2 linked regions of the Homo sapiens genome follow. The protein of the gene in region 2 interacts with the protein of the main gene of each other region in a pairwise test. Each region holds a gene or a part of one and is shown on either strand. Other genes may lie near its edges.

Region 1 (3,231 bases), on a different chromosome or scaffold from region 2:
GAAAATACTTCTTCTCTAAGACGGGCTGATGTTTAAAGACAGTATTTTATGTCTGTACCATGATATGTTTAAAGAATGTGTATTCGTGTTTGAAATGCCAATACCAAATATTAGATGCAAGCACAGGGTCGGGAACCATGGGAGACAAACAAGACACAATCACTGCTCTCCAGAAACTTACAGTGTAAACTGGAGGCTTCACGGTCCCCACCAGGATCTAAACAGGCATATCTTTCATGTGTTTTTATTTTGGAGTTCCACAAAACACTTTTTTTGAATACAGAGCTCCATTTCGTTAAAAAAATTGACAACTCTGATCAAGTAAATAAGAAAGCTGCTTATAGGTAATAGAGTTTCCCCTTCCTTTTTAAGATTAGAAGGAAATTTAGATGAAAGGAATTGAGAATTTACATTTTTAGATGATGTGTTCATATTTCTTTGGATTTCATCTTAGTTTTCCCTCACCAGTTGCCTTTTAGCACCTTTCTAATAGGCAATCTGTAGCAATGTACAGATGTTTACAATAATGAAAGTGCTCATTCTTTCCTATATACTGCAATATCACGTATTTGCTACTATCCAGAAAAAGGTTCTACATATATCCTTTCTAAAGTTACTGTGAAGTATCTTCAAGAACTATACTTCATGACGGTTATTCTAAGGTGTTTAATTCAAAACCACTACCTAATTTCTCTATAGCATGTGGAATTTAACATCCCATTTTCAAAATAGAATGGTTTAAAATTAATTGACTTAAGGAGCTGCAGACCCACATACAGTGAATCTTCTATGAGGTTTACAGGAAAAATGAGCCAAAAGACATATAAGTACAGTATTCTTTATTATAAACAATCAGATAACAGTATAAGTGTGCATTTGATGGATAACCGAAGCCAAGTTATTATAATAGAAAGCATGACTTCACTCAAATAGACAGTTTCTTTGTTGTTGTTAATCTGTTTTACATTAATTTGAATTTAACATATGCTAGGATCACCTAAACTTGTCATACAGTTCTGCTATTAAAATCGTAACAGGGAAAGACAAAATGTGAAATGCATGTTATATTTTGCTTTATTTGTTGAATATATATGTGTGTGTGTGTGTATATATATATATATATATACACACTAAATATTTGGGACACAAAGTTAAGCAGGTGCTTACAGTCTATCAAGTGATATTTATGAAATGTTTTTGTTGCTGTTTTGTTGCTGTTATGGGAACATCCATATCCTTAGAAGACAATAAAAAAGAGGATTCTAAATGCTAGATGGTTGGCTAACTTCTCCTGATTTATACTGAGTGTAAAACAAAACAAAACAAAACATAAGGTATATGTGTTAAGTAGTGACATCTTTATAGTTCCAAAGCACTCGCAGCTATTAAAATATCATCTAGCTAAAACAAACTTTTCACAATTTTTTAACAGAAAAATAATAAACCAACAACAAAAACTGATCAATGTTCTGGGTCTTGTGAGCAGACCGAAATGTTACTACAGTGTTCTCTATTGTGTGATCCTTGTCCGTGGCAACCTTAAACGTGTGCTGCAGTGCTGATGTATTTATAGGCTTAGCATGTCTGCTTTATTAGTTATCCTGGAAAGAATGCTATTCAGTTTTTTTTTTAATGTCTACATCAAGGAATGAATGCTAAATGAGCCCATTTAGCAGCCTGAAATCAAATACTGCATTTATTTTTTGAAACTCTTGGTAGCAAAAGAAAAAGCTGATTAAAATATGATTGTGTTACAATGACTAAAGGGTTAACTTCTCATTAATTCTAAATTCTTCAAAATGTACAAGCATCATAATAAAGGCTTTTGATGAGACATGACTGGTGATGATCATATGTGCCAATTTAATAATTTATTTGTCACAGAAAATTCAGATTCACTGCAATATTGTGTTCTGGCTTCCCAAAGCTGCAGGGAAATACAAGTTTTTTGTTTCTTGATTTTTGTTTAGAGACAGGGTGTCACTTTGTCACCCAGGCTAGAATGAAGTTGTATGATCATAGTTCACTACAGCCCCAAACTCCTGGGCTCAGATGATCCTCCCGCCTTGGCCTCCCAAAGTGCTGGGACTATAGGAATGAGCCACTGCATCCAGATTTTTTTTTTGTTTTTAATGTCATTTATGAGCCACCAGTTTAGATTAATTCTGTAAAGGTGTAAGATTACCAGAGGAAGCCGGGCGCAGTGGCTCACGCCTGTAATCCCAGCACTTTGGGAGGCTGAGGCGGGCGGATCACAAGGTCAAGAGATAGAGACCATTCTGGCTACCATGGTGAAACCCCGTCTCTACTAAAAATATAAAAATTAGCTGGGCGTGGTAGCCTGTAGTCCCAACTACTTGGGAGGCTGAGGCAGGAGAATCACTCGAACCCGGGAGGCAGAGGTTGCAGTGAGCCAAGATCACGCCACTGCACTCTGGCCTGGTGACACAGCGAGACTCCATCTCAAAAAAAAAAAAAAAAAAAAAAAGATTACCAGAGGATAAGTTAGATAGCTGGTAGAGAGATCACGAAAGCTATGTTTGATCTCTGGAGCAAAAACTGTGTTGAAGTTCTCCCATGGAATGGTTCCCATACAAGATTCACCATATTAATGCCTTTTCTAAGAAAAGGGGACATGGAGAATTATTGGAAAACAGGGAAGAAAGGGGAGGAAAAAAAACAACTTTGAGACATGGAAGAAAAGTAGCATTTATACAAGGAATCCATTACCTGACTTTGCAGAAGAGTAAGGAAATAATTTCAAAACAGAGATAAGAAATCAATCACATTCTTTCAAGCAAAAGATGATAGATTACATTATTTTGTTTTGTTTTAAAAGTTCTGAAACATGAAGATGTCTGTACAAACAGATTCACTATTAGGTTCTCGGCTCCCTGAGGGCTGGGACTGTCTCTTATTTACATTTGATTCTACAGTACCTAACATTGTACCTGACACCCATAGGTAGGTGCACAATACATAGTTGATGAACCAATAAACTACAGATTTTTCTATACACTACATGGGCCATATATTACATTTTTCAATGTAAAATGTAATAATTCTTTTCTATGTGTATATATGAAAGTTTCTATTAGCTAACACTAGTAACTGTAAGAGGTGACAGTAGTAGCTCAATCATATATCTTTCTCACATGATCATTTCTACCTTGAATACAATTTAATTAGAAAAACTACCATGTGCACTAATGCTAGAAAGAGTTGAGATAA
Region 2 (4,330 bases):
CTCAGCTGCAGTGCAAAGGAACACCAGGTAGATTTCTAAGGATTTTTACTCCAATCCCTGGCTCATGGATGGCATCTGTATACCAACCTGAGGCCTGGGGAACTCACCGTCCTAAGGAGAAGGACATAAGCCTGTCTGGCTTTGCCACCTGCTGACTGTACAGGGCTAGGGCCTTGAGGGAACACAGGCGATAGCCATGTAGTGGTCACAGGAGCCTTGGGTGAAACCCAGTGCTGTGCTGGCTTCAGCTCTCACCCAGCACAGTCCCAGTGGTGGTAGCTAAAGGGGTGCTTCTGTCCCAACCCCCAGTTTCAGGCACTTCAGCACTGACAGAGACATGCTGGGACAAAGTGAGGGAAGACCCAACAAGAGTCTCTACCTGTTATGTTAATCAAGGGAAATCTTTCAGATCTTATTCAAGACCACAAAGGTGGTACAGCTCTCTGAGTCTGCAAGAGTCACAGCATTACTGAGTGTGGGGTTCCCGCTAAAGTAGATTCAGCTTAGATCACAACACCCGGGTCCTTTCAAATACCTGGAAACTCTTCCTAAGAAGGACAGGTACAAATGAGCCCAGACTGTGAAGACCACAATAAACACCTAACTGTTTAATGCCCAGACACTGACGAATATCTACAAGCATCAACACCATCCAGGAAAACGTGACCTCACCAAACAAACTAAATAAAGCACCAAAGACGAATCCTGGAGAAACAGAGATACGTGACCTTTCAGACAGATAATTCAAGATAGCTATTTTGAGGAAATTCAAAGAAATTCAAGACAAACACGGAGAAAAAATTCAGAATTCTATCAGATAAATTCAGCAAAGAAATTAAAATAATTAAATAGAATTGGCCGGGCACAGTGGCTCACGCCTGTAATCCCAACACTTTGGGAGGCCAAGGCGGGCGGATCACAATGTCAAGAGATTGAGACCATTCTGGCCAACATGGCGGAACCCCGTCTCTACTACAAATGCAAAAATAAGCCGGGCATAGTAGTGCATGCCTGTAGTCCCAGCTACTCGGGAGGCTGAGGCAGGAGAATGGCATGAACCCGGGAGGTGGAGCTTGCAGTGAGCCGAGATCGTGCCACTGCGCTCCAGTCTGGGCGATAGAGCGAGACTCTGTCTCAAAAAAAAACAAAAAGAAAAAGACAATTTGTATTTCACAGGGCACTCTGCTATAAAGGGTAAGATGTTTTGTTTAGTAAACAAATAAAAAAATAAAGACAGCCAGGCACGGTGGCTCACGTCTGTAATCCCAGCACTTTCGGAGGCCGAGGCGAGCGTATTGCCTGAGCTCGGGAGTTCGAAACCAGGCTAGGCAACATGGCGAAACCCCGTCTCTACTAAAAATACAAAAAATTAGCCGGGCATGGTGGCGGGTGTCTGTAATCCCAGCTACTTGGGAGGCTGAAGCAGGAGAATCGCTTGAACCCGGCAGGCGGAGGTTGCAGTGAGCCGAGATCACGCCACTGTACTCCAGGCTGGGTGACAGACTGAGACTCTGTCTCAAAAAAAAAAAAAATAAATAAATAAAATAAGCTGGGCTCGGTGGCTCGCGCCTGTAACCCCAGCACTTTGGGAGGCCGAGGCAGGTGAATCACCTGAGATCAGGTGTTCGAGACCAGCCTGACCTACATGGAGAAACTCCATCTCTACTAAACATACAAAAAATTAGCCAGGTGCAGTGGCGCATGCCTGTAATGACACCTACTCGGGAGGCTGAGGCAGGAGAATCGCTTGAACCCAGGAGGCGGAGATTGCGGTGAGCCGAGATCACGCCATTGCATCCAGCCTGGGCAACAAGAGTGAAACTCCGTCTCAAAAAAATAAAAAATAAAGACTGCATCTAACGAGGTAAGGTCACCAACGAGCACACTGTTCCACTATCAGTTCTCACTAGAGGATTCTGTGATGTAATGCCCAACCTTGTTTTTACTAACCCTGTTTTTAGATTCTCCCTTTCCTTTAATCACCTAGACTTGTTTCCACCTGAATTGACTCTCCCTTACATAAGAGAGCCAGACAGACTCCATCTTGGCTCTTTCACTGGCAGCCCCTTCCTCAAGGACTTAACTTGTGCAAGCTGACTCCCAGCACATCCAAGAATGCAATTAACTGATAAGATACTGTGGCGAGCTATATCCGCAGTTCCCAGGAATTCGTCTGATTGATAACGCCCAAAGCCCCCCATCTATCACCTTCTAATAGTCTTAAAGCCCCTGCACCTGGAACTGTTTACTTTCCTGTAACCATTTATCCTTTTAACTTTTCTTGCCTACTTTACTTCTGTAAAATTGTTTTAACTAGACCCCCCCTCCCCTTTCTAAACCAAAGTATAAAAGAAAATCTAGCCCCTTCTTTGGGGCCGCGAGAACTTTGAGCGTTACCCATCTCTTGGCCGCCGGCTAAATAAACGGATTTTTTTTTAAATAAACGGACTCTTAATTCGTCTCAAAGTGTGGCGTTTTCTCTAACTCGCTCAGGTACAGTGACTATAAAAGATTAGGCCTTCAGCAGCTCAAAAGGGCTGTCCTGACAGTCACTCCTAATAAAAACTCAGCATCTGCTGCCTATGGCTCTGCCACCTTAAAGACTCTTCCTTGCAAGACTACAGGCTTTTGGGTGATGATGAGGTGACCTGAGGGCATGGAAGGCACCACAATTACCTGAGCAGAGAGCCTCAGCGTGGCCACCACCGCCATCGAACCACGTGGTTTAAAGCAGGGTTGGGAGGAGAGGGTGACCAGCCAGGAGATATGGGCATGACGGTCCCTATCCTGGCCCAGGGGTGGGTCACGCTTGGCGCCGTCACAGAGCTCCAGAGTCGCCTCTGTGCAGCAGAGGACAACTGTTCTCCGCCTTCTGGGTTCAGTCACCGCAGTGCCGACCTAGCGCTCAGGAGCCTCTCCGACAAATAAACCCAACACCAATCAAAATGGCCGCCACCAGAGGGCGCCGGAAGTCCGGACCCATTGTCACGTGCACACAGGAAATGCCTTTATTCTGAGCCCCCATGGCTCTTCCACTCTGTCATTCCATGCGGAGTTTTCTGGGTAATGTAGTTCCCTAGGTAACAAGGAGGGTAAAGGGCACAATTCCCAGAGGCGGTTCTGCAGGAAAAGCCCAGCTCCACCTCAGGAGTATCCTTAAGATATGCGCCCTGACTGGTATGGTGGCTAGCTCCTGTAATTCCACCAGTTTGGGAGGCCAAGTCAGAAGGATCATTTGAGGCCAAGAGTTAGAGATTAGCCTGAGCAACAAAGCAAAATCCTGTTTGAAGGGGGCCTGCCCCTCCATACCTATGGGTATCTCTCATCAGGTGGAGACGAGAGACTGAGAAAAGAAATTAGACACAGAGAAAAAGTATAGAGAAAGAATAGTGGGCCCAGGGGACTGGCACATTCAGCATGTGAGGACCTTCACCGGCGCCGGTCTCTGAGTTCCCTCAGTATTTATTGATCATTATTTTTACTCTCTTGGTGAGGGGAGTGTGGCAGGGCAACAGGGTGATGGTGGGGAGAAGGTCAGCAGGGAAACACGTGAGCAAAGGAATCTGTATCATGAATAAGTTCAATGAAAGGTACTGTGCGTGGATGTGCACATAGGCCAGATTTATGTTTCACTTTAAACAAACATCTCAGTGTAGCAAAGAGCAACAGAGCAGTATTGCTGCCAGCATATCTCGCTTCTAGCCACAGGGTAGTTTTCTCCTATTTCAGAATACAACGAATGGGAATGGTTGGCTTTACACCATGACATTCCATTCCCAGGAATGAGCAGGAGACAGAAGCCTTACTCTTATCTCAACTGCAAAGAGGCCTCCCTCTTTCACTCCTCCTCCTCAGCACAGACCCTTTAAGGGTGTCCGGCTGGGGGATGTAAGGTCTTTCCTTTCCCATGAGGCCATATCTCAGGCTGTCTCAGTGGGGGAAACCTTGGACAATACCCAGGCTTTCTCAGGCAGAGGTCCCTGCAGCTTTCCGCAGTGCATTGTGTCCCTGGTTAATAGAGAATGGAGAATGGCGATGACTTTTACCAAGCATACTGCCTGCAAACATATTGTTAACAAGGCACATGCTGCACAGCCCTAAATCCATTAAACCTTGATTCAATACAGTACGTTTCTGTGAGCACAGGGTTGGGGCTAAAGTTACAGATTAACAGCATCTCAAAGCAGAACAATTTTTCTTAATACAGATCAAAATGGAGTTTCTTATGGCTTCCTTTTCTACATAGACACAGTAACAATCTGATTTCTTTTCCCCATATCCTGTCTCTGCAAAAAATAAAAAATATTAGTGGGGTGAGGTCAGGCAGGCC

Evidence for each region.
Region 1: the proteins of ZNF587B (region 2) and SMAD9 interact in a two-hybrid assay, tested with the Homo sapiens proteins (one large-scale study listed by BioGRID).

Annotation. Positions count from the first base shown.
Region 1 is NC_000013.11:36,844,009-36,847,239, forward strand, and holds the end of SMAD9 (mothers against decapentaplegic homolog 9), read right to left. Parts: 3' UTR 823-3,231; downstream 1-822. UniProt on the Homo sapiens protein: Transcriptional modulator activated by BMP (bone morphogenetic proteins) type 1 receptor kinase. SMAD9 is a receptor-regulated SMAD (R-SMAD).
Region 2 is NC_000019.10:57,828,911-57,833,240, reverse strand, and holds the start of ZNF587B (zinc finger protein 587B), read right to left. Parts: upstream 2,943-4,330; 5' UTR 2,713-2,942; coding exon 2,677-2,712; intron 1-2,676. UniProt on the Homo sapiens protein: May be involved in transcriptional regulation.